Regions from separate parts of the Homo sapiens genome. Here regions 2, 3, 4 and 5 are each linked to region 1. The links come from fine-mapping of genetic effects on gene expression. A gene starts in region 1. Each other region holds a variant in brackets. All regions are shown on one strand. Distances are from middle to middle. Region 1 holds the start of ZNF883 (zinc finger protein 883). Region 2 has its middle 21 kb from the start of FAM225B. Region 3 overlaps ZFP37 (ZFP37 zinc finger protein). Region 4 holds the start of ZFP37 (ZFP37 zinc finger protein). Region 5 has its middle 11 kb from the start of FAM225B.

Region 1 (6,560 bases):
CCTATACTCTATTCTCAACAGAGCATCCAAAATTGTTCCTTTAAACTAAGTCAAGTTATGTCACTTCTCTATTCAAAACCCTATGAAAATTGGTAAATTATATGTAAATCTTAATAGAGCTGAATAAACAATAACACCGAACACCATCACCTCCTACGTTTTCTCTTCTCATTCAGCATAAAAGCCAAACTGGCTGTGGCCATACTAGCCTGTGTGCTGTGTGGTCTGCACGCCTTACCTCTCTCATCTCAACTCCTACTGTGCTGCTATCACTCACCCCTCTCTGGCCACGTGGCCTTCCTGATGCTCCCACAAAGGTTAAGCACATCTGCACCTTGAGGCTTTGCATTTGCTGTTGCTTCTGCTGAGGAACTTAATCTCCCTAATCCCCCTCCCCTCCCCAAGTATCTACAAGGCTCATATTCCTTTTTTTTTTTTTGAGACAGAGTCTTGTTCTGTAGCCCAGGCTGGAATGCAGTGGCGTGATCTCGGCCCAGTGCAATCTCCACCTCCCAGGTTCAAGCGATTCTCCTGCCTCAGCCTCCCGAGTAGCTGGGACTACAGGCGTATGCCGCCACGCCCAGCTAATTTTTGTATTTTTAGTAGAGACAGGGTTTCACCATGTTGGACAGGATGGTCTCAATCTCTTGACCTCGTGATCTGCCTGCCTCAGCCTCCCAAAGTGCTGGGATTACAGGCATGAGCCATCACGCCCGGCCCATATTCTCATTTTCTATAATGTCATCTACCAGTGAAGCCTTCTCTTACTCCCCTATATTAAATAACAGCTGTCCTATGCCTTCCCTAGCCCCATTACTCTGGTATAGTTTCCTCTATTCATCACTATGAATGATGTTCAGTAGGTTAGGTGAATTAGTACATTTTTGAATTAATATTTTCAACTTACACATTTACTGGAATGTAACCTCATGCTCAGTTGAGGAACATCTGTGTTTACATTATTGTCTGTGTGCCCATCCAAGACTGTCAGTTCCACATAGGCAGAAACTTTGTGTTATTCACTGTTATATCCCAATGCTTAGAACATTAGCTGGCAAAAAGTAGGTGCTCAATGAATATTTATTCAGTGAGTGAAAGAAAGAAAATTTTCCCTCCCTCTGGACAGAGGTGATATTTCAGGAAATAAAAAATACAGCAGAGCTGCGTTACAGACACACATGTATATTTTATTTGTACAAATCTGCCCAACAGGCTCAAGAAAGTATGTTATCTAAAGGTAAGAGTGAGATGGGAGAATCTCCTGTTTCCTCAGTCTCACTTCTTACAGCCCTCTCGTAAGTGAGCATCTTGCTATGCTGAGTTATTTTAATGTTTAAAGAACATAGTCGGGGTACATTTACACATGTATATTATTGCATGGTTGTATACACATTACATGTGCATACACGTTATGAACTATTGTTCATAACAATGTATTCTTGAAAATTGCTATGAGAGCAGTTTAAGTGCTCTCACCACAAAAAATGAAAAGTACGTGAGGTGATGCATGTTCATTAGCTTGATTTAGCCATTCTACTACGTATACATATTTCAAAACAACATGTTACACATGATGAATATATAAAATTTTTATTTGTCAGTTATAAAGAAAAATTAGGCCGGGCACGGTGACTCACACCTGTAATCCCAGCACTTTGGGAGGCTGAGGTGGGCAGATCACGAGGTCAGGAGTTTGAGACCAGGATGCCCAACATGGTGAAACCCCATCTCTACTAAAAATACAAAAATTAGCCGGGCGTGGTGGTGCACGCCTGTAATTCCAGCTACTCAGGAGGCTGAGGCAGAAGAATCGCTTGAACCCAGGAGGCAGAGGTTGCAGTGAGCCAAGATCGTGCACTGCACTCCAGCCTGGGCAACTGGACGAGACCTTGTCTCAAAAAAAAAAAAAAAAAAAAATTGAGAGCAAATAATGAGCAATAAAAGAGATTATCAAGGGACGTTTAATTGCATATGATTTTTCCACACTGCAAGATGGAACTTTAGAAATTAAACCCAGCTTAAGGTACAAATGCCTTGAAAAGTTTTGCTCACCAAAGACCATGTAGTCAGGGGCCAGTGGTCAGGTCCTTCTTCTTGATGCCATCTTATATAAGTAAGTAGAGACCTGAGAAAGCAGAGCTGAAAAAGGAAAGGGGCCCTGAGAAATCAGGACTGTCTTTATGAGAAGCCTGTCTGACTACCTGGATATAACCCACACCCTCTGTAAAAATGTCAGAATGAATCTAGGAACAGATTCTTTCCCTGCAGAGTACAAAGTGAAAGGCCACTTACATTCCTCTCTCTGGTCACTGGTCCAATCTGACAAACCAGAAACAGGGCTAACTTTATCCTCCCATGATGGGTGGCACCGAGTGCACCAGCTCCCTCTTTGTTTGTTAACAATACTTGTAAAGCATATACAATTTTTCGAAGTGCATTCACAAATGCCATCTCAAAGAACAAACAATTGCTCTTCGTCGCCCGCAGAGTGTAGGGAATCAATTCCACAGTTCTTTATAGAAGAGACTTCAGAAATTTACCAGTAAAACGAAACAAGCTATCTCTAGAGAGGAGGTGAGTTTCTGAGGAAAGAGCAAGAACTGGATGTCGGGAAACCTAAATTCTAGTTGGCACTAAATACGTATATCACGGTTTTCTTGCAATTCCCAGGTCTACCTACCACCAAGGTCTGGGGTGGTTGCCCCTCCCCAGATAAACTGCCCCCCATCACAGTCAAAGCAAGGCCCAAAAGCTCTGAGCTCTGTTCTCATGACTCTCCAACCCAGAAGAGAACCCAAGCCCCTGACTGTTAAGGCTGGGATGAGCAGACACGGCTTTGCCTCCTCCTCACCCTGAAGCGGGATGCTGGCCCAGGTCACCACCACCCCTCCACTGCAACGTGAACCAAATACCCAGCCTGACCTAATCGGCTTTCCTCCGCCCCCGGGCCCGGCCAATGCATTCTCAGGCCTCTCCCGACCCGCCCGAATGGTTGTGTTTGAAGGGGACCTCTCTCCCCACCTCCCACACGAGTGCAAGGGTCGGGAAAGAAAAAGCTCACCTGCTCCACCGAAAAATAAAGAGCACGGTCGGGCGATGTGGTTCCCAAGCCAGGAAGTACGCCTGCGCACGCGGCCGCCAGGAACTACATTTCCCAGCATCTTCTGCAAAGCGCCCTCTTGAGCTGCGTCTTTCACCGGTGTCTTTCTAATGCTTTGCGGGTTGCGAACGTGCGTCGTTTCCATCGTTGTTTACATGAAAAGAAGAAAAAAGGAAAAGATTTTTTCTTTTGCTATAAACAACTGTAAATCCAAAGAGATGCAAAGTTTGCGTTAACAACACCCCAGACACAAAAGTAATACCTATTCACTACATTAATAGATGATTTATAAATAACTCTTTATTCAACAGATAAAAAACCAAACTACCCAGATGGATTCATTGCAGAAATATTTATTAACGCAGTGATTAATATTTTTTAGCATTCTAAAAGTAAATCTCTGATTTATAGCTAGCTTCTTTGTTATGAGTGTGTGTTGAGGGGACGGTGGCGGGGGGGCGGGGCGGGCAGAGACAGGGGGCAGAGAGAGAGACAGCGAGCAAGCACCAGAGAGATTCCATCCAAGAATGAGGTCATACTTTTGGGGTAGATTTTTTTCTAGCTTTTTTCTTCCTGTTAGGAACTTAGGTTATGATCCCTTCAGTGCTACCAAAAATAGTATACTGATGAACATCCTTGTAGAGTAATCTGTTCACTCCTCCACATCTGTTCTTGACAAAAACGTCCGAAAAACGAATATAATGAAGAGGGAATATGTATATCTAACTTTTTTCTTAAACAAACGAATATAGATAGATAGACAGATTGTAGATAACAGAGAATAGAGGTAAGGAAAAAGAACAAAATTAGTCAGATAAAAGTTCACTCCAAGATACTCCCTATTATATATTTAAATATGTAATTTCTATGCATATATATACAAATTCTGTATAATTAGATATTCTCAAGTATAAAACTATACATACTTTAAAAAATTGCTTTATTGAGCTATGATTGATATAACTGTACACAGTTAATATACACAACTTGATGTGTTTGGAGGTAAGTATATATACCTGTGAAACCATTAAGCCATCATGCCATCAATCCCATAAATTCATCTATCACTTCCAAAAGTTTCCACCCCTTTGGGCTTCCCCCACCTTTTGTGGTAAGAACACTTAATGTGAGATCTACCCTCTTTACTTATTTTTAAGTATATAATACACTATTGTGAATCATAGGCTCTTTATGGTAAGAAGACATCCAGATCTTATTTATTGTGTATAAATAAATACTGAAACTTTGTACTCTTTGACCAAAACCTGCCTATTTCTCCCTCACCAGCCCCTTCACCATTTTACTTTCTGTTTCTATGTATTTCCCTATTTTTGATTCCACATATAAGTGAGATCATGCAATATTTGTCTTTCTGTGCCTAACTTCTTTCACTTAGCATAATATCCTCCAGTTTCATCCATGGTGTCATAAATGACAGGATTTCATTGTTAATAAGGCTGAATAATATTCCATTATATGTATATACCACATTTTCTTTACTTGTCCACCAATAGATATTTAGGTTGTTTCCATATCTTGGCTACTGTGAATACTGCTGCAATAAACGTGGAAGTGCAGATATCTCTTTGAGATCCAGATTTCCATTCCTCCGGATATATACCCAAAAGTGAGATTGCTGGATCAAAGGGTAATTCTATATTTAGAGGTACATTTATATTGATTTCCATAGTGGCTGGACCAATTTACATTCCTACTAATAGTACACAGGGTTTGTTTCCTCTACATCATCTGTTATGTATTTATTTTTATAATAGCTATTTTAACAGAAGTATGGTGATAACTCATTGTGGTTTTGATTTGCATTTCCCTGATTACTAGTGATACTGAGCACTTGTTCATATACCTGTTGGCTATTTGTATGTCTTCTTTGGAAAAATGACTATGCAGATGCTTCACCCAATTTTAATTGGGTTATTTGTTTTTTGCCATTGATGCATAGGAATTCCTTTGTCAGGCAGATATTAACTCTCTGGATATTAACCTCTTATCAGATATATGGTCTGAAAATATTTTCTCCAAAAAATAAATTCTGTTGGTTGCTTTTTTATCTTTTTATTTTGTTGTTTCTTGCTGCGCAGGAGGGTTTTTGTTTTTTTTGTTTTTTTTTTTTTGGTTTTGGTTTTTTGATGGAGTCTTGCTCTGTCGCCCAGGCTGGAGTGCAGTGGCGTGATGATCTCAGTTCACTGCAACATCCACCTCCTGGTTTGAAGCGATTCTCCTGCCTCAGCCACCTGAGTAGCTGGGATTACAGGTGCACGCCACCACACCCGGCTAATTTTTGTATTTTTAGTAGAGATGGGGTTTCACCATGTTGGTCAAGCTGGTCTCAAACTCCTGACCTCGTGATCCACCCGCCTCAGCCTTCCAAAGTGCTGGGATTACAGGCGTGAGCCACTGCACCCGGCCAGTGCAGGAGGTTTTTAGTTTGATGTAATCCCACTTGGTATAATCCCACTTTGGTGTCATATCCAATAAATCATTGGCCAGCACAATGTCTAGAATATTTTCCCCCATGTTTTTGTCTAAACGTTTTATTGCTTCAGGTTTTATGTTTAAGACTTTAATCAATTTTGAGTTAATGTTTGCATGTAGTATAACATAAGAGTCCAGTTTCATTCATGTGGCTATCCAATTTTTCCAACACTATTTATTGAAGAGACTATCTTTTCATCATTGTGGGTTTATTTCTGAGCTCTCTATTCTGTTCCATTTGTCTAGACGTCTGTTTTTATGCTAGTCATACACTGTTTTGATTAATGTAGCTTTATAATATATTTGGAAATTAGGGAGTATGATATTTCCAGCTTTGTTAGTCTGGCTCAAATTTTCCTTGGTTATTTGAGTCTTTTGTGGTTCCAAATGAATTTCAGGATTTTTTCTGTAAAAAAAAAAATGCCGTTGGGATTTTACTAGTGATTGCACTGTATCTATAGGGCACTACTGGAAGTATGGACATTGCTATGCTTTGAATCTTTGTCCTCTTCAAAACTCATGTTGAAATTTAATTGCCATTGTGACAGTATTGACAGGTGGGACTTTAAAGAGGTGGTTAGGTTGTGAGAGCTGTGCCCTCATGAATGGACTAATGCCTTTATCTATCAAGAAAGTGCGTTTGCCACGTATGTTTATTGCGGCACTATTCACAATAGCAAAGACTTGGAACCAACCCAAATGTCCATCAATGATAGACTGGATTAAGAAAATGTGGCACATATACACCATGGAATACTATGCAGCCATAAAAAATGATGAGTTCCTGTCCTTTGTAGGGACATGGATGAAGCTGGAAACCATCATTCTCAGCAAACTATCTCAAGGACAAAAAACCAAACACCGCATGTTCTCACTCATAGGTGGGAATCGAACAATGAGAATACTTGGACACAGGAAGGGGAACATCACACACTGGGGCCTGTCATGGGGTGGGGCGGGGAGGGAT
Region 2 (6,560 bases), 79 kb after region 1:
CCTCTCGGCCCCTCCCTGCATCCTGGGGACTCCGGTGCCCCGTCCGGGGTGCCCTCCCCTCCGCCCATTCAAACTTGAAGCACATCTCATCTGGGGCCACCGGGGGCCCGGGTTCCTGGCGCACTGAGGGCTTCCTCGGCCCCCTCGGGGCCCCCCACTCCCCGCTCCCCTTCCCGGGGCCCTGCGCCCTCCTCCCCACCCCTCCAAGCTCCCAGCCCCTAAGCCTGCCTCCTCTGCGCTCGTGGGGGCGTCGTGCTCTGCCGGACTCGGGCTTGTCGTGGCCTCGCTCTCCGGCTGGGGCTGGTCGTGGCTTGACCTTCCGCCCTCGGTTTCCGGTTTCTCTGCCGGGACTGCGAGGGGAGCCGTCGGGGCTTCTCCACCGTTTGTGCCTGGACGCAGAGGCCTCCCGGCTGTGCCCGCTGGAAGCTGCGGGGGAAGAGGAGGTCGACAGTGAGTGGGCCATGACCCGTCCGTAGACGGCTGCGGGAGGGTTGCAAGGGCCAAGCTCCCAGAGTGACTTCAAGGCAGGAATGGCTCTGCTCCCAGGTGTCCCCCACCCCCTCCTCTTTCTCCAGCTGCCCAAGACCTCCAGGCCCCACTCCCCTGGTCCCTTCTTGTCTCCTCACTCTGGCTGTTCCCCAGCTGCCTGGCACCCTCCAGCAAACCCTCCTCCGCGGGCGCACCCAGAGGATGGCCCAGCTGGCGGAGCCACCCAGCACACAAAAAGTCTGCCTTTCTTTGACCTTAGGTTTCCCCACCACCTGCCGGATCAGGGCCCGTGGGGCGGGGACCGCTGCCTTTGTCACCCCAGCTCTAACTCTCCTGCCTCCCTGGCCCCTGCCACCCCCTCCACACACCAATCCGCACAGACGAGACACTCGACCCTCACTCACCTCGTCCTCTCTCAGAACCCTCCCGGTTCTTGCGGGTCTCCATCTTCCCCTGCTTTCCACAGGGAGGTCTGTCTTCTCCCGTCTCCTCAAGGGACAGCTTCCCCATCCAGGAAAGAGCTCTGTGTTCCCGGCGAGGAGGCTCTACCCTCTGGCAGCCTGAGCAGCGCAAGCGGGGAAATGGCCGGTTGGGCGCAGCCGGCGGGCTTTGATAGGGAGCCAGGACCCCCTGCTGGGTGTTCCCAGGAGGATTGGCTGCGGACACGCCCACAGGCGCAGGCTACCTTGATTAGGTTAGGCGGGTTGGAGGGGTTCCGCTTTCTCCCTGGGTCCCTGCCGCTCTGTCTCCGGCAAGTGATGAGCAATTTTGCGGAGTGGCAGAACAGAGACAAAGGTAGCTGTGGGCTTCACGGTAATTTCAAAGGAAGTGCCCTACTTCGTTGCCCATTTCGAAGTCCTCTCTACCTCTGCGTTGGACGATTTCTCCACTTCCTGGTGTGCACCTGCGTGTGTGCGTGCCTGTGTGTGTGTGTGTGTGTGTGCGCGCGCGCGCGTGCTGGGGTGTGTGCACACTATGCCGAGAGTCGGGCAAATTTCGAGTGAAGGGAGACCGAGTCCCGCAGGTTCTCTTGCTCCTGCAGTCTGCGGAGGAAAAACTCCTTTCTGGCACGGCGGCAGGAATCCATCTACCGACGTTAGGAAAGGACAGGGTGTGCTTTCGTCCCAGCTTAGTTTTCTATGGAGAAACAGGCAGCAGAGGAGAGTGGGCCAGAGGGCCACATTTTGCCCACGACCAGCCAGGTTTGAGTTGGTTCCTCCTAGGCCTCACGGTCTGATTTTCTCCTCCCCTTTGTGTACCCGACGGGTGTTGCTGTGAGCTCAGGACCATCCCGGCGGGCTGCGGATGGGATCATCGTGTGTGTATGGCCACAGCCCTCCGCCTCGCTCGCTCGGTGAGCACGTGAATCAAGGAAGGGGCACACGACTCTAGGCAGGACCCGGCGGGGTGTGGGGAGGAGAAACTCGGTAAGAGAAGAGAGGGAGAGGGAGACGTGCGAGGCGCAGGCTGTCCCAGGCGAGTCTGAGAAACGGCGTGCGCGGAGACGTCCGCCAGAAAGCAAGCAGGCGAAAGGAAATGGAACATCCGCAGGGCCGGTGCCGTGGGATCCGGTCACGCCCTGACGGCTTTCGGGGACATCTCAGGCTCGCTGTCTCTGCCTTGGACCTGGCGCAGAGAGGAGTGAGGCCTGAGGACAGGGCTGCGTGGCCAGCTGGGTGTGGGAGGTGCCAACACAGTAAGGGCTGCTCAAGGGGTGGCCGGGAGCGATACGGGGGGGTTGCTCAAGAAATCACCGCTGGAACTGGGATCCAGTCATCCCACTTCTGGACGTATCGCCTAAGGACACGAAATCGGGTTGTGGTGCAAATATGTGTCCTGCTGCATTGGTTGTCGGCACGCTGCCTGTAACCAAGACGTGGAATCGACCGAAGTACCCTTCAGCAGATGACTAGAGAAGGACAAATGAATAGGGTTCGTAGAACAAACACATCAGGGAAAGGAAAGGAAAGCCTGTCATCTGGGACGTTATGCATGGACCCAAAAGTCATGGTGCCCAGTGAAATCAGCCAGGCCCATCCGACCCGTATTGCGTGATCTCCTTGTGATGTTGGATGGAGAAAATGCTGTGAGGATCAGGAAAGTAGAGAGGAGAAAGGTGGTTGGCTGGGCCTGGGGCCGGTGTAGGGGCAGGTGTAGGGGCAGGGAAAGGATGCCAATGCGAGATGTGGGTCAAAGGGCACAAAGTTTCCGAGAGACAGGTGGAGTGCTTCCTGGATATCCGTGGCAGGGCAACGTGAGTACGGTGGAGCAGAATGTAAGGTTCTCGTGAATATATCCACGGGAGTAGAGCTGAAAATTCTCCTGAGCGGGGACAGGGGACGCATGTGTGGTGATAAGTGTGTGAATTCGGCCGATTCTAGTGAATTCCCTAATGAAGACGTCACACACGGTTAGTGTGTATCATATTTATTGTCGTTTAAACTGGACTGATCCAGCTGCCGATGGGTTCCTGTGTTTATCTCTACAGCCTTCTTCTTTGCTTTGTGAGCACGTGAGTCAAAGAAAGAGCTCAATTGTCGGCAGGAATCGGGTAGAAACTCAGGAAGTTTGGGAAAGGAGATTCAGATATTTGGGGCCCTGCCTGTTTTTGGCAAGCCATAGAAAATTTGTTTCCAAAGAGCTGTGCCCAAAAGGGAAAAGCTGAAAAGAAATTTTAATGTCTGGAATGCTAGTGTCATGGGATTCATTCATGGTCTTAAGTCTTTTATATACATCTCAAGGGCCCTCCAAACGAGTCAGCATGGATTGTAGTGTGGCCTTTCTAGAGGGTTTGTTGTTCAGCTTGTTTTCTGAGATGCCCGGAAGATAATTATTGTCTAATATGGGGAGAAAAGGGCATCCTGGTGCAATGTTGCTGAGATAGTC[A/C]ATTAGGCCAGTGGTGGTAAGGAGCAATGTGGAAGCTGTTTAATTAATAATTAGTGGAACTGGGATCTAAGCATTCCCATCTGGGCATACAGCCTAAGGAAATCCATGTACACAGTAAATATGTACGAGATTATGTTGGTTGTAGGCTTTTTCTTTTTGTAAGGTACAAAATTTTCCTAGGCATCAGTGGAGACATAAAAAGGAATACTATTCACATTTTTAGTGGAAAATCTGTCATTTTTGACTTCATGAATAAACCTGAAGTTTTCCTGTCTAGTGGGCAATCCAGGCCTGTAATGTTGATATTGCGTGATCTCACTTGTATGTGGGATCAACAAAGGTGAAAATTATAGAAGTTTAGAGTGGATAGTTGGGCTTCATGGCCTAGGGCAGGGGCAAGATGGGCATAGGGAGATGTTGGTCAAAGGATACAATTTATCAGAAAGTTAACTAGAGATTTCTGGATATTTATGACATGGCAATGTGAATATAGTTATACATATGTATTGTACACTTGAAGATGGCTATGAGAGCAGATTTCAGAATTCTCAGCACAGGATTCGAAGCATGTGAGGTGATAAATATTAATTAGTTTGACTTAATTCCCAATGAAGATATAATTCATATATATATATGTATATATAACTATATATATTATTTTCTTTAATGAATCTGGGAAAAATATTACATTACCAACAAAGATGAGAATGAAAGAAAGAAACACACTAAAAAAAATACAACATTAACAGGGCTGATCTGCAGTTCATGTGTATTGATTTACCACCTGGATATTTTGATCTATATCTGAGGTTCTCTCCAGCTTGTCCTTCAATATTGTAGATGCACTGGTTGCTCTGTTGACCCCAAGCTGTCTACCTGAATGTCACCCATCAGCTTCAGCTGCTTTGTGCAGCGCTCTCATGGTTTCTATCACATCTGTCTTCATAAGAAAGAAGCAACTATTCCAAGACACGCAGTGGGACATTCGCCTTCCAACTTTTTCTCCAAAGTTTACCAAGTGTTCATCACTAGCTAGGGGGACAACTTCCAACTTTAGGTTAGAGTAGATGAGATTCTATTGTAAAAACTTTATATACCTCAAGGAAGTGTGCATTTTGGGGGAAATAGGCTGCAAACTTGATTATTACCAACATGTGTAGTCATCCCTCTTGCAAGTTGAAATGAATGATTTTTTAATTAATTGATTCTCTATATTAACTATATTTACTTTGTTTCTTCATCAGTGTGAGATTTCTTTTCAGACTAATAACTTGAAAGTGTGATGATATTCTTTACGCAGTTTGGATGACTGAATGATATTTAGGAATTGATTTAGGAGAGCCTGCTGAAAGCAGAAAGACTAGATATTTTATACCCTTGGAGGTTTTGGTCAAGCATTCCAGAGTCAGGCAGGGTGTGGTGGCTCATACCTGTAATCTCAACACTTTTAAAGGACAAGGTGGGTGGATTGCTTGAGCCCAGGGGTTCAAGACCAGCCTGGGCAACATGGGAAACCCAGTCTCTACAAAAAATACAAAAAAAAAAAAAATAGCTGTGTGTGGTGGCAGATGCCTGTAGTCCCAGTAGTCCCAGCTACTGTGGGAGCTGAGGCAGGAGGTTTGCTTGAGCCTGGGAGGTTGAGGCTGCAGTGAGCCATGGTCATGCCACTGCACTTTAGCCTGGACAACAGAGCAAGACTGTGTCTCAAAAAAAAAGTGGTGTATGTACACAATGGAAAACCATTAAGCCTTTAAAAAACACAACAGGAAATTCTGTCATTTGCAGCAACATGGATGAACCTAAAAGACCTTATTTTAAGTAACGTAAGCCAGGCACAGAGACAAATATATGACTTCACCTACATGTAGAATCTACAAAAGCTGAACTCATAGAAGTAGAAAGGTGGTTACTAATGGCTGGTGGGAGGTGGTTTCATGGAGAAATGGGAGATGTTGGTCAGTAGGTACAAAGTTGCAGTTAGGAGGCATAAGTTCTGGTGTTCTTTTGTACAGCAAGGTAACTATAGTTTGTAATAATGTATTATATATTTCAAACTAGCTAAAAGATGGGATTTTAAAGCTGGGGATGATGGCTCGTGTCTGTAATCCCAGCTACTCAGGAGGCTGAGGCAAGAGATTGCTTGAGGCCAGGGGTTTGAGATCCTATCTCTTAAAAAAAGGGGGGAGGGATTTAAATGTTCTCATCACAAATAAATGATAAATATTTGAGGTGACAGACATACGAATTACTCTGATTTGATCATTCCACAATGTATGCATGTATCAAAATATCACTTTGGACCCCACAAATACATACAATTTTTATTTGTCAATTAAAAATAAAATAAAACTAATAGTACATGAAAGAACTTTGAATACTTATTACCAAGTGAAAAAAAAAACCTGAAATGGCTGCATACTGTGTGATTCTAACTATATGGCACTCTGGAAAAGACAGAACTATGGAGACAGTAAAAGATCAGTGGTTTTGGTCAGGCGTGGTGGCTCACACTTGTAATCCCAGCACTTGGGGAGGCTGGGTTGGGAGGATTGCTTGAGGCCAGGAGTTCAATACAAGCTTGGGCAGCATAGTGAGACTCCCATCTCTCCAAAAAGTTTTTTAAAATTAGCAGATGTGGTTGTGTGCACCTGTGGTCCTAGCTGCTCGGAAGGTTGAGTGGGAGGATCACTTGAGCCCAGGAGTTTGAGGCTGCAGTGAGCTATTATTATGCCACTGAACTCAAGCCAGGGCAACAGAGTGAGACCCGGTCTCTAACAAAACAAAACAACCAAAAAGATCAGTGGTTGCCCTGGGTTAAGGGGAGGAAGTGATGAATAGGCAGAGCACAGGGCATTTTTAGGGCAGCAAACCTATTCTGTATGATACTATAGTGGTGGATACATGTTATTTTATATTTGTCAGAACCCAGGGAATCTACAACACCAAGAGTGAACCCTAATGTAAACTATGGGCTCTAGGTGATAATGATGTGTCAATTCAGATTCTCCGACTGCAACAAATGTACCACCCTGGTGAGGGATGTTGACAGTGCAAGGGCTGTATGGTGAGGGGAGGGGGGAATATGGGAACTCTCTGTGCCTTCTGCTCAATTTTTCTGTGTGCCTAAAACTGCTTTATAAAATGAAGTGTTTTTTAAATGAATATCCTGGAAACAATACCTATAT
Region 3 (6,560 bases), 30 kb after region 1:
TCTAGAAGGGGGACTTTGTGGAAAATTTTAATTTTCTTCAATATTGGATTACTCACTTGATGCCTGGAGATGCATCACTCAAACACATTCCTGAGAGTAAAAGTAATAATAAAGAATTATTTGTATCTTCTTAAATATAGTTTGAAATTGTGGTTTTTAATGTCATATTACTCAATTTTTGAAGGAATCATGCTTTATTTAATCAATTAACTAGCAATGTATATGCTATTTCTCTCTGTTCTGCAATAAATATCATAGTACGCCTTGATTGTACAACATAGAATAGATTCCTCGATGGACTGCCGACCATCATAAGGCTTTGATGTATACTGTCAGATTTACATTTTGGTAGGTTGTACAAACTTACACAACTACCAAAAGCAGTGTGTGACAGATTGTTTTCTACCTATCACAAATGTAATTTTTTTTTAAATCTTGATTTAAAAAAATGTTTCCACTTTTTTTCCTCTTCTTTATGTCAGAGGAGTTTAACATCTTTCTCTTCCCACACCCTCAGATTCTAAAAGATATATCCCTGGAATGCTCTTCCGTCATATATATATACATGGTTTGCTCTTTTACCCTCTCTGGGTCTTTGCTTTTGTCACCATCTAAGTAAGCTTACTGCCTGCTTCCCATCACTATATTTAAAATTACATTCCCCAACACTTCCCTCCCCTTCCTTGGTTTGCTTTTTGCCATCCAGTGATCTGTTATACTTTATATTGTAGTTGTTTATTTATTACCTATGTCCTCCTCTAGAATTAAGGTCTATGAGAACAGGGTTTTGTTTTGTTTGTTTGCTTTCTTTTTGTTTTGTAGACTGCTGTATCTCAGGCACTTAGATGATCATATCACTTGAATAAATAAATGTTTCAAAACTGTTAATAATAATTTACTTTTATGCCCCTTCATTTTCTTAAAGAGGATCTGAAAAACAGTTTAAAAATAATTTTTTAAACTTACTTACACCATGATTTAGATTAGTGGTTCTCAAAGGGTGGTCCCCAGACCAGCAGCACAGGAATCCACTGGAAACTTATTAAAATGCAAATTCTCAAGGCCCACCCACAGGGTTTCTGATCCAATATGTCTGTGACGAGGCCCAAGAATTTGCATTCTCAAGTCTGTGTTTTAACAAATCATTCAGGCAATTTTTATGCACACTAGAGTTTACGTATCGATTCAGACTTACCACTGTGTGTCTGTTTTCCTATACTAACCTCCAATTGTATTTAGACATCCTTTCCTCATTCATCAATGCTAACTTTTAATTCATTTTATTACTGCACAAAGTGGCTTTCAGCATTCATTTATATCATTCAGGCATACCTATAATTCTCACTGTCTCAGATGTGGCAATACTATGGGTTCCCCAAGACATGTGGAAATTCAACATAGCCATAACCTGCAACTGTTTCATCCATCTAAAAAGTGCAGGCTTTCTACAGCTCTAGACAGTGATGACTCATTCTGTGCATAGTGCTATATTTCCACTTGTTAAGAAATTACTGGTAGAAATGGCTTTCATATTGCATTTTCTTCCCATGTGATAAATAAGTTACTTGGAAATGAGGGGATATATTCATGAGTTGAGCTTTCAACCCGTGCATGTGTATGCATGTGTGCACATGCACATACACGAACACATATTCCATTCTCAATATATTATATTAACACATTATAATTCTCTGAAATGAGGTCAGGAAGGAAGGAGCTTGAATGATAAATATTTGTAAAGATGGCATTTAAGCACATATTTCTTTGGGGCCCATTATTATGCTAAATTACTGTCTAGGTGAAATATTTACTCAACAGGATTGAACATGACTAGACAAGTCCCGATTACTGCTCATATGTTAGTTCTGAGGAATAAATGAAATAATGTAGGGATTGTGCTTTAAAAAATATAAAAGATAACATGCCAAATTATAATATTTTATATTATGTAAATTAATATTGTATTAAAATAAAGGTATGATGTTTTTGAAAACCATTTCTGTACTTATGTCTCTGCTTTTAGTGTAACAACTTAGATTTCAAAATAGTTCAGAAGTTTTGTGCATTTTTTGTATTTCTTTTTTTTGAGACAGAGCCTCACTCTGCTGCCCAGGCTGGAGTGCACTGTAACCTCCATCTCCTGGGTGCAAGCAACTCTCTTGCCTCAGCCTCCTGAGTGGCTGGGATTACAGGGATTACAGCATGCCCAGATAATTTTTTGTATTTTTAGTAGAGATGGGGTTTCATTGTGTTGGCTAGTCTGATCTCAAACTCCTGGCCTCAAGTGATCCACCCACCTTGGCCTCCCACAGTGCTGGAGATTACAGGCACCCACCATGCCCAGCCAGAAGTATTTTTAATCTATGGCTCAAGAGTAAAAAAAATCCAGGTGTGCAATGGCAAATAGGTCTCCTGTGACAGTCCAAGTTGATGCATAGTACCTTCTGGAATGCACGCTGCACAATGATTCTGAGGCCAACTCTGGGTTCACTCAGAAAGAGTACAGTGATCCAGTAAATAATGCCCAATATTGAGCGAGAACAGGGAGGGGTGACATTTGTTTCATTCGAATTCCCTGATT[G/C]AGGTGTTTGTGTGTTAGTTCTTTGAATATGAGATAAAACAGGGTGATTATTCATAAAATCACTTTCATTCACCTGCAATCACAATTCATCATCACCTGCAATCACAATTCAACATCAAAAAATGGCAAATGTAGAAACAGTGCTGTTATAATTCACTATGTTAATGAAAGAACTTGTGTGTGATAGAAAAAGTCTTTATGAATTCAACATCAAGTTTCATACTATATACTTTAGATTCATCATCATTCATGAATAAGCATACAAAGATTTTAACTCTGTCAAAATCTGAGATCTCACATGTTGATCTCACATGTTGTGGAGGGGCTCAGTGACAACCTTAAATAATGTTGATTTATGCATATTAAAATATTTTAATTATAAAAATAATACATGTGCATGATTTAAAAATCCAAATATACAAGGAAGTCTTGCTCCTATCCTAGACCCCAGTCCTATACTCCTCTGCCCAATGGCAACCACCATGAAGTTTATTCTGTATTTTTTCAAAGTCTATTCACATACAGATACATGTATATATGCATACAAAGATACATACACATACAGAGATAAGAGACAGAGGTTAAACAAACATACCCTTTTGTACACAAAGGGGAACATACTATATACATGGTTCAGCAACCTACTTTTTCACACTTCACAATATATCTTGAATATCGCTCCCTACCAGCACATTTGTATCCTCAGCTGCTTTATTTTCTCTCATTTTCCTGTTAACATTTTTTACATATATAACAACCCTTTTAAAAAGATTTCTGCTGATGCAGAAGCCAACACAGACATTAAGAAAGAGCTGGGTGAAAATGTCAAAGAGGCTTATACAGATGGCCACACTCATTTACATAAGGCAATAAACAGATATGCAAATTCAACTCTAATATATGGTGCTTAAGTACAAAACAAGAAGAAACACAGGAACTGTCAGCATATATAACTTGTTTCTCCATTGCTTTGAATATTCAAATAATTCACAATTTTTAAAGCTTTCAATTTCAATCTGAACATGTAGATCATTTATAATAATTGAGTAGTTAAAACAATATTTTTTATAAAAGGTTTTGTATCAAGTTTAAACCCTTGTTTCCATCCACTGATTCTATATGAAGATCCATTTTCAAAGTTTCTCATGTACAACAAGGTGTGACATCTTGCTAAAGGCTTTCTAACACTCTTTAAAATCAGCATATTTCCAAGGTTCAACAAAACCTTAAATTTAGTTAACAAATTTCCCACATTAACTTCACTCATGAGATTTATCTTCTGAATGAGTTTTCACATGTTTGGTTAGGGATGCATTTTGTTTGAAAGTTTTCCCACATTCATTACATTCATAGGGTTTTTCTCCAGTGTGGGATCGCTGATGTATAACAAGCTGTGATTTTGCATTAAAGGCTTTTTCACATTCGTTACATTCATAAGGTTTCTCCCCAGTATGAGTTCTCTGATGTACAATGAGGTGAGACTTTTGGCTAAAGGCTTTCCCACATTCATTACACTCATACGGTTTCTCTCCAGTATGAACTCTCTGATGTTGAGTAAGGCCTTCAATTTGTTTAAAGCCTTTCCCACATTGATTACATTCAAAGGGACTTTCACCTGTATGAGTTCTCATATGGTAAGTAAGAGATGAGCTATGTCCAAAGGCTTTTCCACACTCATTACATTTATAAGGTTTCTCCTTAGTATGAGTTCTTTGATGTATAATGAGGTGTGACTTCTTGCTGAAAGCTTTCCCACATTCATTACATTCAAAGGGTTTCTCACCTGTATGAATTCTCATGTGTTTAGTAAGGGATGAGCTATACTTAAAGGCTTTTCCACATTCATTGCATTCATATGGTATTTCACCTGTATGTGTTCTCACATGTTCGGTAAGAGATGAGTTATACCTAAAAGACTTCCCACATTCCTTACATTCATATGGCTTCTCACCTGTGTGAGATCTCACATGTTGAATAAGGTTTGAGCTGTGTCTGAAGGTTTTCCCACATTCAGCACATTCATAGGGCTTTTCTCCAGTATGAATTCTTAGATGGTCAGTGAGTGCATGTTTATGACCATGGGCTTTGCCACACTGAATACATTCATATGGTTTTTCTCCGGTGTGAGTTCTCTGATGTACAACAAGGTGTGACTTTTGGCTAAAGGCTATCCCACATTCATTACATTCATATGGTTTCTCCCCAGTATGAACTCTCTGATGGTCAATGAGTCCTTGTTTATGGCTGAGAACCTTTCCACATTGATTACATTCATAGGGTTTCACACAAGCTTGAGGTTTTTCATGCTTAGTAGATGAGCTAAGGCTGGGTGATTTCTCATGTTTCTCTCCAGTTTGAATTTTGTCCTGTTTAATATGGGATGAACTATGACAGCATAATTTGTCATGTTTTTTGCCAGTTTTGTTACACTTATCAGATGAGCTATGGCTGGATAATTTCTCATGTTTCTTTCCAGTTTGCTTTTTGCCTTTCCTTGTATCAGATAAGCTATGGTTGAATGACTTCTTGTGTTCTTTAGCTGCATCAGATTTCCTTTTTACACAGTTTCTTGAGTGATCAGGTAAATCTAAATTCTGTTTCAAAATTTTTCCACATGACTCAAATTTAAGAAGCCTTTTCTTTGAAGGAACATGTTTTTTATGCAAATTATTTTTTTTCCCCAGTGAACCACAGTCACTGCCATTCTTCTTAGCTTGAGTTTTCTTCTTGACTGCAACTTCCCTGAGGAGTTTGTTTTGAGATTTCTGGATATTTTCAAGCTGGTCATCATCTTTCTGGACTTCTAAAATGGAATTCAGTGAGATATTCTTGTGAATCTTTGTACTCTTATATTTTGGAATAAAACTGGTAAAGAAATGACCTGTTGTAGGGTTAAATTTTTATTCAAGCCTGGTATACCAATGTGAATGAAACAACTAGGGTGAATGGACTTGAGGGGGAAAATGTTGTAGTAAAAAGAGGTGGGAAAAGTGACAATAGTGATTTTTTAAAGTTTTTGCTGCTTAAAAATATGAGTGAGCAACCTGGGATAGAAGATGAAATAAACACAGGGAGAAGTGAACAGGGAATAGATGGAGTTAAAAGAGCTTATGATTGTAGCTGATACTTTTTGAGGTTTCTTATAAGCCCAAGCTGCCCAGTTCTGATAACTCCCAAGCTGGCCATAATATATTGCTCCTGCAGCCTATACTATATTACCCCAATTCTCCATGGGCACAGTTGGAGACAAATCTGACTCAAACCAAGATGTCCAACAAGATTCTTTCTTCTAACAAATTTGACTCCAGTTAGTCTCCACTTGGTACTTAAATTTAGAAATTATATAAAGCAGGTACTAGTAAACCATATTTTCTCTACGTAAACAGAAAGCTCGTCAAGTCAAAGTATGAACCATCCACACACCGAGAAGCAGAGACATAAGAACTGCGTCTTTAAAGAGATCATTTGCACAATTTCAATTCCCAATGGCTTCCTAGTTCCTTCCTAGTTCCTATTTCTAGTCCCTGGTGAGGACTGGCTGAACTATCTTGCCCTTAGCTTGTAAGGGATGTACCCAGGTCCTTATCACAAATTCCTGTATTTACTGAAGCTAGCTAACATAAACTTTTGTTATTATATCCAAAAAAGCCAGAAAAGAAAAATAAAGTGAGTCCACCAAGAAGTACTGATGAGCTGATAAGTGGCTAAGAGAATAAATAGGAAAGGTTATCCACTTTATACTACTCATGGTGAATTTTTCTTGTAGTGCTTAGATCTTTTCCTGCTGACATATCTTTTCCTTTCTATTGCTACCACTGAAATGACCCCTAAAATGATATTCTTGTACTTTAAAAATCCCTAGTTTCTCTAAATTACCTGATGCTTTCATCAAATGATAAAATTCATAGTAATTAGCTTAGCAAACAAACTTTACTCAATCTGATTTGTAGTGTACATCCAACCTTGTTTTGTTTTCCAA
Region 4 (6,560 bases), 46 kb after region 1:
TTTTGTTTCCTGGTGTGTCTCCAGCATTTAAAACATTCCCTGGTTTTGAGGACAAAGCAGGGACTGCAAAACAACAACACCAAACAAATAAAATAAAAAATACCCCCTGGCATAAAATAAATGCTCATCTTACAGACTGTTCCTACTGTTCCTGCAAGTTTTCAATCACTGACACCCAAATACTCCCCAATCACTAACCTTCACAAACTTCTCCCAATTATGGATCTCTGCAAGTTCCCAACTATCACTCTCCACAGAACAATCATTAACCTCCACAGATCTCCAATCACTGACCACCAAAGAACCCTCAATCATTAAATGCAGCAATCCCCTCAAACTCCTGACCCCCTTAGACTTCTAGTCACAGAATCATAGAGGATCTTCAATCATTAATTCCTACTAATCACCTCATTACTCAAAGCACAGTTATTACTGCTAGACACCACCTAATTATTGACCTGCATACATCCCCAATTACCTTTTCTCCCCAGATGACATACAAATCATCTACCATCCCCAGAGACACCTCAACATTGACTCCCCAAACTCCAACAGTCATATTCCCCCCTCACTGGCCCCCCGATTCCTCCATTACCCACTGACCCTCAAAGATACTGCTAATCAAACTTCCACAGACATCACCGTCACTGACTCCCAAGCCCCAATCTCTGATGCTCCCAGATGCTCCCAATCACTGAATTTCCCAAATCCTAACACTGACCCTCTTTGATAACCCAGGCTCTAACCACCACAGGCACCCATAATCGCTGGCTCCCATAGACATCCCAAACCGCCAACCCCCACGGTCCTTCCCTATCTCTGACACATCACAAAGCCTCCATTTCTGATCTCCTTCCAAACTCCGACACTCGGTGACTGCCACAGACGCCTCCCCATCATTGTCTCTGCAGATCCCTCCTAATACTGATATCCTAAAGCCAAATCATTAACCCCACAGATAACTCAGAACACCGACCTCCCAAAAGACCATCTAGCATCGATTCCACCAATTCCCAAATCACCTATCGTCACAGACTACTCCAATCACTGCCCCGCAAGTACACCATCTCTGACCGCCAAAACACCCTGTCTCATCACAGCTCTCACCGCGGCGCTGGCCTCGGGCTCGGACACAGCCATCTCCAGTGGTCGCCCGGCCTCTTTGGTCGTTTCCGCACTTCTCCTCCGGTCCACGGTCTCTGGCTTTGTCAGAATCTGGACGCCGCTGGAGACCGACATGGCGGCTACCCGGAGGGCGGCCTTAGCGGGTCCGGCAGCCGCGATGGCGGCGCCCTTCGGTAATAGCGCACGGGCGCGGCCATCTTGGCAAACACTCAGCCGTACAGCGGAAGTGCGGGGACTTCTGGGACAATTAGATCGGGAGGTGGAAGCTGGCGAGGGCGTTACTTGCAGGATGCAGGAGTGATGCGATCAGAGCCAGCCGGAACCGAGTTCCGTTACGCACTACAGGACTGACCTGGGCCTGACAACCCACTGCCGGAGTTCGGATCGCATCACTGCCGGAAGATATTTTACAGAATTTGGAATTGCTTTTCCGAATACATGTCAGTGCGGCCAGCGGCTAGAAGTCCGGGAATCACAACGCTTAGTGCGGACTTTAGAAAGGCAGGATGCGAGAAATTGGAAGCATAACGGAGAAAAGCCTGATCGAACAAATAACATTATTTTATAGGGAGAGGACGTTAATCTTTGAGATATACGATAAATCTTTTCATATATAGTATAAGAACAATAAGAAAAACTGAAACAGAAACTTAAGTAAACACACCACTCCTCCGTGAGAGCCCGGGTTTGGTGAAGATATTTCACCAGAATAATCAAGCACTTGGAGAAATAATTCCTTAATGCGCCATTTCATGCATTAATTGCATTCATTGAATATGTGCAGGTTAGGTGCTGCGCTATGCAAGGTACTGGAAAAAGAGTGGAGAGGGGTAGGGATGATGTAAGTCCAGAGTCCAAAGGCCAGAAAACCAGGGTCTCCAATGTCAAAAGGCAGAAGATGAATGTCCCAGCTCAAGAAAAAAGAAAAGGTGGGAGGGAAGTGGGGATACTTAACGGGTTTTTAAAAAAAAAGAAAAGAAAGAAGGAATAAGACCTAGTATTTGATAGCACTACAGGTGTATATATCCAATAATAATTTAGTTGTACATTTCGAAATAACAAAGTATAAATGGATTGTAACACAGAAGATAAATGCTTGAGGGGATAGATACCCCATTTTCCATGATGTGATTATTGCACTGTGCATGCCTGTATCAAACTACTTCATGTACCCCATAAATATACTCACCTACTATGTACCCACAAAAGTTAAAGATTAAAAAAAAATAGAAAAGAGGATTCACCCTTCCTTTTCCTTTTTGTCCTTTCAGGCCCTCAGTGGATTAGGTGGTGGCCACCCACATTGGTGGGGGCTTTTTTATTCAGTTTGCTAATTCAAATGCTAATCTTTTCCCAGAAACACACTAACAAACCCAGAAACAATGTTTCACCAGTTTTCTGGGCATCCTTTAGCCCAGTCAAGTTGACCGATAAAATTAACCATCACCCTAACCATGATATACACAGACTTCCAGGTTACAGAATCTGTGAGATAATAGGTTTGTGATACTTTAATCCACTAAAGCTGGTGATAATTTGTTATCCAGCAATACTAAACTAAGGACTCAGTGAAGACTGAAAAATAATTGATGGCTTGAAATTACTCTTCACCTACTTAAGACACGGCCCCCTACACTGTGTTCCTGACAGAGTATTCTTTGAGCGTCACCTTTGTACGGATAGGCAATTGCTTTGTTTCTGCCTCAGATATGGTCCTGACTTTAATTGTTCCTGATATTAGAGTCGTAAAAAGGTACAATATTTTTTTCAATACCTCTCCTTTCCTTTCTTCCTCACAAATCAGAAAGAGGGGCAGTTCAGTTTCTCAAGGATTTTCTTGAAACCAACATATATATACATAATATATACATATATATACATATACACATATATACACATGTATACATATATACACATATATACATATATACATATATACACATATATACATATATACACATATATACACACATATATATACATATATACACACATATATATATACATATATATACACATATATATATATGTGGTAGGGATGAGTTAGTACGGAGGATCAGAACATAATGTTGTACTGTTGAGTATATTCATTCGAGTAGACCTGAAAATTCTCCCGACAGGGACAGGGGAAGCAAGTGCGGCGATAACTGTGTGAATTCGGCTGATTCTAGTGAATTCCCTAATGAAGAGGTCACACACGGTAAATATGTATGGTATTTATTGTCATTCATACTTGAAGGCACCGGGAGGGGAAGAAAATATTAATCAGGCAAAAAAACGTAAAAGAGACATTACTTCTATGAGACTCTAGCATTCGTAGGAACACTCTCTGGTTCACAAGGATTGACCGAACACCTCGATATGTGGCTCTCCATCTGAGGCTTGCTCCAAATGGCCCTCCACTATTCCAGGCACGTGGGTGTCTCCCCTAACTCTCCCTGCTCTCCTGAGCCCATGCTGCCTATCACCAATCAGTGCAGGTCCTTTCTGAAGAGCTCGGGTGCATTCTCTCCATCCCACCTCTTTTCCCAAGAAAGAAGCCACCTGTTCCAAGACACGAAGTGGGACATTCCCCTTCCACCTCCTTCTCCAAA[G/T]TTCCCCAGGTGATCATCACAGGGTAGGGAGACAAGTTCCCAGATTTCAGTTACAAGACATAGGACGCTGGCATGAACACACACACACACACACACACACACACACACACACACACCTCGAAGAGGTAGCCACAAGGGTCATTAAACACATGACGACTGATTTCCAAAAACGTGGATGCAGTTCATCCTTGCCAAAGCCGAGGGTGCAAACGCGGAATGGCGGAGAGATTCCAGAGGCTCACCAAAACCTGCCAGGAATATTTTCCTGACCCTGGGGGCAGAGGTTGGAAATATTGAGGACATTTCTTGGGACACACGAAGAAGCTGAGGGACCAGGCATTTTCCTTTCCACTACGAATGACCTACACCGAGGGCATTTCACTTTCCCCTGGAAATCCCCTATGGTGAGGTACCGCCCCAAGCCCCCACCCCCACTTCCGCGAATCCACGTGGCTCAGTCTCTACACGGGTGTCACTCCAGGTAGGCTTCTCAACGCTCTCGGCTCAAAGGACAATCCCACATCCAAACGCAAAGCCCACACCTCATCCCTTCCCAGAAAACGCGCAAAAATTCAATGGGAGAGAGGTCCCGAGTCATCAAAGTCCCAGATGTGGTGAGCCCCCGGAAGGAAAAACGGTGTCGTCCTTAGGATGTCCGGAACAAGAGCTAGGCTTCCGGAGCTAGGCAGCCATCTATCTCCGTGAGCCAGCGGGAGGGAGACCGCCGGGAGGCGAAGTGGGGCGGGGCCATCCTTCTTTCTGCTCTGCTGCTGCCGGGGAGCTCCTGGCTGGCGTCCAAGCGGCAGGAGGCCGCCGTCCTGCAGGGCGCCGTAGAGTTTGCGGTGCAGAGTCGGGATCGCCTCTGGGGCAGAGGGTTCGAGCTTTTCCAAGGCGAGGGTGCTGGCTCCCGTGCGCACCTAAGGCCCCCCAGGAGCGGGCGCAAAGGGCGGCGGGCCCGCGGGCCAGGGCCCCGCAGCCAGCAGGCTGTCGAGCGTGGCCAGCGCCCAGTGCAGGGCGGCCCCGGCGTGCGCCAGCTGCCAGGTGAGCCAGGCGCGCTGCGAGGCGCTGGGCTGCGTGCCGCCGGCGGGCCCCGGGAGGAAGGCGCCCCCCGGGGCCCGAAGCTCGCCCAGGGCCACGTCCAGCCCGCCCAGGTGGTTGACGACTCGCGAGAGCGGGCACGGGAGGGAGACCCAGGCTTCTGGGGAGTGGCGTCGGCGGCGCTTTGGGGAGGTGGGTCGCTCCTCCCGGACGTCAACGCGGCGTTGCGGGCCGCTCGTCCTCCCTGGCGATCTAGGCCGGTGCTTTGGCTCCTCCAGGCGCCTCGGGCTGGGAACAGAACCTGCGCGGGAGACAGAGCGGGAGGTGTCAGAGGGACTGCGCGCAGCGCTAGGGGACCCATTTCCAAGGTCCCGAAGCCGCTCCCGACCCCGCCTCCCCCTGCCCTCCATCCCCCACCCCTCCGCGGCTCGCCTCCGCGCCCCATCCTCTCGGCCCCTCCCTGCATCCTGGGGACTCCGGTGCCCCGTCCGGGGTGCCCTCCCCTCCGCCCATTCAAACTTGAAGCACATCTCATCTGGGGCCACCGGGGGCCCGGGTTCCTGGCGCACTGAGGGCTTCCTCGGCCCCCTCGGGGCCCCCCACTCCCCGCTCCCCTTCCCGGGGCCCTGCGCCCTCCTCCCCACCCCTCCAAGCTCCCAGCCCCTAAACCTGCCTCCTCTGCGCTCGTGGGGGCGTCGTGCTCTGCCGGACTCGGGCTTGTCGTGGCCTCGCTCTCCGGCTGGGGCTGGTCGTGGCTTGACCTTCCGCCCTCGGTTTCCGGTTTCTCTGCCGGGACTGCGAGGGGAGCCGTCGGGGCTTCTCCACCGTTTGTGCCTGGACGCAGAGGCCTCCCGGCTGTGCCCGCTGGAAGCTGCGGGGGAAGAGGAGGTCGACAGTGAGTGGGCCATGACCCGTCCGTAGACGGCTGCGGGAGGGTTGCAAGGGCCAAGCTCCCAGAGTGACTTCAAGGCAGGAATGGCTCTGCTCCCAGGTGTCCCCCACCCCCTCCTCTTTCTCCAGCTGCCCAAGACCTCCAGGCCCCACTCCCCGGGTCCCTTCCTGTCTCCTGACTCTGGCTGTTCCCCAGCTGCCTGGCACCCTCCAGCAAACCCTCCTCCGCGGGCGCACCCAGAGGATGGCCCAGCTGGCGGAGCCACCCAGCACACAAAAAGTCTGCCTTTCTTTGACCTTAGGTTTCCCCACCACCTGCCGGATCAGGGCCCGTGGGGCGGGGGCCGCTGCCTTTGTCACCCCAGCTCTAACTCTCCTGCCTCCCTGGCCCCTGCCACCCCCTCCACACACCAATCCGCACAGACGAGACACTCGACCCTCACTCACCTCGTCCTCTCTCAGAGCCCTCCCGGGTCTTGCGTGTCTCCATCTTCCCCTGCTTTCCACAGGGAGGTCTGTCTTCTCCCGTCTCCTCAAAGGACAGCTTCCCCATCCAGGAAAGAGCTCTGTGTTCCCGGCGAGGAGGCTCTAACCTCTGGCAGCCTGAGCAGCGCAAGCCGGGCAATGGCCGGTTGGGCGCAGCCGGCGGGCTTTGATAGGGAGCCAGGACCCCCTGCTGGGAGTTCCCAGGAGGATTGGCTGCGGACACGCCCACAGGGGCAGGCTACCTTGATTAGGTTAGGCGGGTTGGAGGGGTTCCGCTTTCTCCCTGGGTCCCTGCCGCTCTGTCTCCCGCAAGTGATGAGCAATTTTGCGGAGTGGCAGAACAGAGACAAAGGTAGCTGTGGGCTTCACGGTAATTTCAAAGGAAGTGCCCTACTTCGTTGCCCATTTCGAAGTCCTCTCTACCTC
Region 5 (6,560 bases), 89 kb after region 1:
ACATGAGGCATTTGTTTCAGTGCTTTTATCCAATTAAACAGAGAAGAAAAGAAAAGGCTGGCCAGGAGCATGCCAGCCTTTTTTTACAAAGCGCAAGCCCACCAGAAATCAGGGCTACCTCTGCGGACAAAAGGATGCTGAAACTCAAAGAGCAAGTCAGTTATTTGGCCAGAGCCTAAAGAAAACAATAGGGCTGAGAAGTGTAATTAATGCAAGGGAAAGATGTCCACTCACTGAGGAACTCAGTGAGTTAGATACTCACTGAGTTAGAACTCAGTGAGGCTCAGGCAGAACTCAGAGTTAGATATTCCTGTGACTGAAAGACTCCCTATTTCCTGAAGAAGGAAAGGGCTGACATCTGCATCCTGCAGCCTTCAAGTAGATTATAAGAGTCTGCATGATCTCAATAATAGGCAGGTCACAGATAGCTTGGAAAACCAAAGAATGTGGTGTGGTTTCATGATGAGCAATTTGAGGCAATCCACTTCCATCTTCTCTGAGTAGCCTGTATCTCTGGGCAGGCCCTGGCAGCCTGGACCAAGGATCCAAGGGACATCAGGCCATCCCCATGCCTCCTCAGGCTCTGTTTATAAGGTTTGTTTCCTCAAGTCAGCCAGAGAGTTCTCCTCCATCCCCTCCTCCCAGCAACATTTCTCTCAAGAAATATTTTCACCCAATTAGAGAAAATGTATTGCTGCTCACAGTATAGTTCCTCTGAAGAGTCTTGTCTCTGTTTCTCATTTACAGTGGTAGTCATTCTTACCATATATAGCTGTTTCTCCTTAAAGAAAAGTGGTTTCTTCTGTCTTTGCCATGTTTGGAGAAGTTGGGTGTATCTTAAGACTGGGCTTAGAGAAAAGAAGTCAAGTCCAGCTCTTACTGATGACTTGACTTCTTGGGTTAGGGAGGGGTTTTGACAGTGGCATCACACACCTCCCTCTCTCCCAGGTTCTATCATTTGTTCAATGAATACCTCCTTTCTAATAAACACAAAACCCAACTGGACAAGTGTTTAGAGGCTTAAATAATGAGAATAAAATCTGTTAAAGAACAACCCTCACAATCTAGACTTATGCTCTCTGCTCCTTCATCATACTGAACTGTATGCAGACATATGGTGTTATTCTTGGGGGTGCATAGGCACCACAGGGCCACAAGTGTCCTACTCAGCCCTCAGGCAGGGCAAGGGATAAGAAACTTCACACATCTCAATGTGGAACTGGAGTTTGGGAGGCTTGAGGCCCTGAGCTCAGGGGATAAGGAACAATCCTCATGACCCTAAATACATTGGTGAAGAAGAGCTACCTCTTGCACCCAAGATCCCATCCCTTTCCTGATTGAGGCTGGGGAGATGCTTCCCAATTCTTAACATAGCCTTAATGAAAATATGCAGTTGACTACCAACTCCCCTTGACTCTCCCTTTGTGACAGATTCTGGAGTATCAAGGAAGGAGAAATCTTGGCTCTATTTGTGGATTAGGAAGTGGGCAGAGGAAGAGGCCAGAGGGAAGAGGAAGGGTAAGGTCTTAGCAAAGCTGAGGGTGAAAGAACTTATTATTACTGGGCTTGGGAAAGACAAAACCAACACACTCCCCCCAAAAAGTGTCCATGTATTTTCAAGTACACTGAACTCATTCTCCAGCCACTGAAAGCTAGCTGGATTCCCTCCCAGGGACATGAAAATCAGCCTATGGCTGGGCCACCTTGCCCAGTCTCTCATCCACCACAAAACAGCTCAACTCTGAAAGTGTTCAAGCATAAGATTATTTTCCAGAAAATAGTGTTTTGTGAAAGCTAGAAAAGGTAGCCACTGTCCAGTGGCCACAGAGATGGGTGAGCTTCAAGGGGACAGGTTTTGGGGGTTATTGCTAAGGTAGGTCATCAGTGGAGATAGCAAGGCCAAGGAACAAGTTATGTGCTCCTTAAGGATCTTCTGTATATCTGGGGTTCATCTATCTTAACACAAACTTGGAACTCAACATCTGGGAAAAGGGAAGCCCCTCCCTATAGGGACTCAACATGGCGCCTGGCTTGATGACAAAAGGCAAGGAAATCAAATAATCTTCAATAATGAGATGGTTCACAGGGCACCTGCACAGTGCCTGCAGGCAAATAGGAAGATATTGGGGTTTGAGTGCCTAGGAAGGAAGAAAACCAGTGAGGAGAAGAAAGATTGACCCAGCCGGTGGAAAATATGGGAATATTTTCATAGTCACTAATTATGGCATTCTCTCTCCTGCCAAACACACACACAAAACCACACACATACATAAACTCACACACGCTGACCTAGTTTTCCTATTTGCTGTGACTGGCAAGGACTCCATAGAACATAATAGTGCCATCTTGGCCGAAGGGTGTGTGAGCTTGTCTTGAACATAAACACAATGTCGGTATGGATGTTTTTGTGCTTGGACATTTCTTTGTGGGTAAGTGATATTTTTGCCTTCCTTACCGCCATACTTTATTACAAATGTGTAGAATGTTGCCCATGGTGTTAATAATTCATCCAAGAGGGTTTAGGTGCTCCCTATCATCTCCATGTGCTTGATACAGTCCTGGGAGCTCCCCTCCATGGATTCCTACAGGCCATGCATTTTATGTAGGTTGCTCACTGCTATCTAGTGAGCATCTAGTATCCCCAGCATCTAGTGCTTAGCATTTATGTGGTACTCAGGAACCACTTAGGAAACCAAATGACCGATGGGAGGTGTATCTGGGGATAGGGCTTGCCCATCATGTCTTGGGATGGACCCATCCTAAAAGGGGAGGGAAGGAGGCCTGATAGGCATCCAACTCAAACTGTCCAGTGGAGGTCACTAAAGACTTCACTCTGGAACATGAGCTCTGCCTTCATGGCTTCCAGAAGACAAGAAGTAGAAGTGTAACCTCACAAATTAGGTCCTGGAGGACACTTCTGGGTTACTAGAGCTTCTTTCAGCCCTTTCTGATGGATCCCCCACCTCTGCCTCAGTGGGCAGTGATTGGCCTTGTGAGTCTTTGGGGGGCTGCTGTGTTCAGAAGTGACCCTGGGCCCTCAGAATCTCATGCATGCTGTGGCTTTAGAATGTACTCAGAGAGGTGTTGACTGAGCTGGGCCTGCTGCAGATGCATGTACCTTCTGTGGTGTAACTCTGTGGAGATGAAAATAGTAATAGTAATAACAATAATAGTAATACTATTAACTACTGTACAAATTTTCCATGGCCACTGCAATACCACCACAAACTTTGTTCTTAAAAGAACACCCATTTATTATCTCACAATTCTGTAGGTGGATTCAGAAGTCTGGATGGAATCTACTGGACACTCTGCACATGATCCCCAAGGTTGAAATCAAGGCTGCAGCTATTTGGGCTCCTGTCTGGAGATTCTGGGGGAAAATCAACTTTGAAGTTCATTCAGGATGTTGGGAAAAATCAAATTCCTTACACCTACAAGTCTGAGGCAGGTTTTCCTTTTCTGACTGTCAGCTGGGAGCTGCCATCTGCTCCTCTGGGCTTCCTGTATTCTCTCTAACATGGCTGTCTCCATCTTCAAAGCAGCAACAACTTGTGGAGTCTCTAACTTGGAATCTTTCTCTGCCAGGCAGAGCAAGCTTTCCGTTTTTAAGGGCTCGTGTGATTAGATTAGGCCCACTGAGAAGATCATTTTCTGTCAATGGATTAGTAACCTTAATTGCATCTGCAAAATCCCTTTGGCTACAAAATGTAATATAGTCAGGGAAGTAACAATAGGGGGCAGAAAGATATGATGGAGACCAAATTCAGCTTGCTACCACTCGAGTCCATTGAGGTCACTCCATGTACTGGCCTCAAAGCCTTCAGCTTGAGCCTGCAATTTTATGTTATAAAATAAAACTATTATACATGTACATGAGTACCTTTTGTTCTCCAAAATATAAATTCTAAGAAATACTATCTGCAAAATAAACATATAAAAAGAAAGTTCAGGCCGGACGCAGTGGCTCACGCCTATGATCCCAGCACTTTGGGGGGCCGAGGTGGGCTGATCACGAGGTCAGAAGATTGATACCATCCTTGCTAACATGGTGAAACCCTGTCTCTACTAAAAATACAAAAAATTAGCCGGGTGTGGTGGCACATGCCTGTAGTCC[G/C]AGCTACTTGAGAGGCTGAAGCAGGAGAATTGCTTGAACCAGGAGGCGGAGGTTGCAGTGAGCCGAGATTGTGCCACTGCACTCCAGCCTGGGCGACAGAGCAAGACTCCATCTCAAAAACAAACAAACAAAAAAACAAATTTCAATCAATCTGACTAATTATTGAACATATTTTTATTCCTTTGCTGCTAAGGTCATCATTAGTTCTAGGCTTTAGTGAATATACCCATGCTTACATACATACATTTCAGTTGATTAGGCAACTTTAAAATATATGAGTCGCCAGAGTTTGTAAAAACCATTTTGCCACTTTTTCATGAGAACCTAGTTCTCTTCTTACTTTTCATTGAGGAAAATATTCACATTTTATAATGCTCACCCAGTAGGCAATAAAAATTGCTGTGTGTTTCCTATTTATCCCTATCTGAGTGGGGGTCTTTATCATCATTACCTTGTCTCCACAATATACACAGAGCCACATCCAGCCACTATGGGGAAGAGTACACATGACCAACCCCACGTTCCAGAACACTGATGTGGATGCATTACTAGATAATACTTTGGCTGGCTCCTAACATCTTCTTTGGAGATATAGTGAATGTGCTCTACCTGAGGGGGAAAGAGAAACATGAATTTTGGTGACCTAAAGACCACTCTGCAGTAGAGTCTATGCTATATGTTCACCAAGCCCAATTCACTTTCCCCTTGGACACAGCAAAATATTGCATCCCTTGCAGTTAGTTGGGGCCCCATGAGTGAGTTTGCTCAATGCAACATGAAGAAAAGTCATGGATGCCATGTTTGTACTTGGCTATATATATTTTCTGTATGCAATCCTCCTGTTTCTCTTCTCCATCTGTAGCAACAATGGAGACTACATGTCAAAGAAAATGTAATCATTAAAAATAATTTTCCAGCACCCGCCACATTGACATATAGAACCCATTCTAGCTCATTCATAGCCCACAATAGCAACTAGGAATTATCTGTTGTATCCCAGGCAATGCTGTGAAAACTATAAGCAAGACCCCCTTCCTGGATACATCTGGGACTCCGTTGCTCCCCTCCAAGGTTTGATCAGAGAGAGTGGTAGTGAATACACTTCTATCCCATACCTTTCCTCTTCTATTTCTCTCTGCTACTGAGACTTAGCCCAAGAACCAGAATGGCTTTTAACCTGTTTTCTGATTGATAAGAACTGCCGCTATTGATATTCTTTCTTCTATGTGTGCAGTGGGGTAAGAAATAGGCAAGAGAACCATGAAAACAAAGTAAGATTTCAAAGCACAGGAAACACATCAGGTTAAATTTCAATTTTTTTTCAGCCCAGTAAGAACAGAAATATAGTGATTAATAGTGAATCAATGGGTCTCTTATAAGCCAATGTATAAGATTTTATTCATAGGATTATAGGAATCCACTGATGGAAATAATATGACTTGTACTTTTAGACTAAATGTATATCTGGCTTTATTCTTGGCCCACACTGCCTGAAGAATTAAGTACAACATTAATGTCAGTTCCTTAAGAAGGGTCTGTAGAAATTAGATGATGACACAGAATACATGCAGTATCTCCCTTTAAACTTCCCCCAAAGTTCTAAGTCATAGGAAAAAATAGCTTCTACTCTCTCAATTCTTATTGTAAGAATTCTTACTGTTACATGTAAGAATGTAAGAGACCTTGGGTCCTAGGACAATGCCTGGAAAATAAGATCATGGAAAGAACAATGGCCAATTGAGAGTAAATTAAACCCAGAGCAGACAGGACAGGCACAGGAAGCACACCATCCCATCCAATCACTCCCTCAAAGCCAGGTACAGAACGCAGGCCTGCAGTCTCCATCAAGTGTCATGTTTTTTTGTTTGTTTGTTTGTTTGTTCATGGAGCATACAAAACTTGAATATCTAACTACCATTTAACTTTTTATCCCATTAAAAATAAAGGGTTTTTTTGTTTTGTTTTTTGGAGATAGGGTCTCCCTCTATGCCGTCAATGTTTTTAGAGCCTTCCACGTGGTTCTGATGACGCAGGCTCCAATTTGAGGAGGCTGAGGAAGGATGCTTAGACGGGGATGAGGGAGGAACTGCATTTACAGGAGGTCATAAGCATCCGAAGACAAGTCTCTATAGCAGGATATATTTATTTTCTTTTTGCTTCTAATTTTGAAATAAAACTACTTCTTTCTTTTTTTTTTAAGATGGAATTTCGCTCTTATTGCCCAGGCTGGAGTGCAACAGCGCTATCTTGGCTCACTGCAACCTCCACCTCCCAGGTTCAAGCGATTCTCCTGCCTCAGCCTCCCAAGTAGCTGGGATTATGGGTGCCCGCCCCATGCTCATCTAATGTTTTTTGTATTTTCAATAAAGATGGGGTTTCACCATGTTGACCAGGCTGTTCTCCAACTCCTGAACTCAGGTGATCTACCTGCCTCGGCCTCCCA

Evidence for each region. PIP is the estimated chance that this variant, and not a neighbour inherited with it, causes the effect.
Region 2: its variant is fine-mapped to the expression of ZNF883 in whole blood (TOPMed, PIP above 0.99).
Region 3: its variant is fine-mapped to the expression of ZNF883 in whole blood (TOPMed, PIP above 0.99).
Region 4: its variant is fine-mapped to the expression of ZNF883 in whole blood (TOPMed, PIP 0.96).
Region 5: its variant is fine-mapped to the expression of ZNF883 in whole blood (TOPMed, PIP 0.90).

Annotation. Positions count from the first base shown.
Region 1 is chr9:113,009,089-113,015,648 of GRCh38, forward strand. ZNF883 (zinc finger protein 883) reads right to left here and starts at 3,104. Exons shown (of 5, transcript NM_001101338.2): 1 at 3,062-3,104; 2 at 2,053-2,139.
Region 2 is chr9:113,087,883-113,094,442 of GRCh38, forward strand. No RefSeq gene overlaps it. Among named protein-coding and RNA genes, the nearest start is that of FAM225B, 21 kb to the right of the region's middle. The variant A/C (reference allele first, on the strand shown) is at 3,376.
Region 3 is chr9:113,038,885-113,045,444 of GRCh38, forward strand. ZFP37 (ZFP37 zinc finger protein) reads right to left here. Exons shown (of 4, transcript NM_003408.3): 4 at 1-5,384. The coding sequence ends at 3,841. Among named protein-coding and RNA genes, the nearest start is that of ZFP37, 15 kb to the right of the region's middle. The variant G/C (reference allele first, on the strand shown) is at 2,582.
Region 4 is chr9:113,055,450-113,062,009 of GRCh38, forward strand. It overlaps ZFP37 (ZFP37 zinc finger protein), which reads right to left and starts at 1,275. Exons shown (of 4, transcript NM_003408.3): 1 at 1,108-1,275. The coding sequence starts at 1,239. RefSeq lists an enhancer at 906-1,475. The variant G/T (reference allele first, on the strand shown) is at 3,720.
Region 5 is chr9:113,097,848-113,104,407 of GRCh38, forward strand. No RefSeq gene overlaps it. Among named protein-coding and RNA genes, the nearest start is that of FAM225B, 11 kb to the right of the region's middle. The variant G/C (reference allele first, on the strand shown) is at 4,118.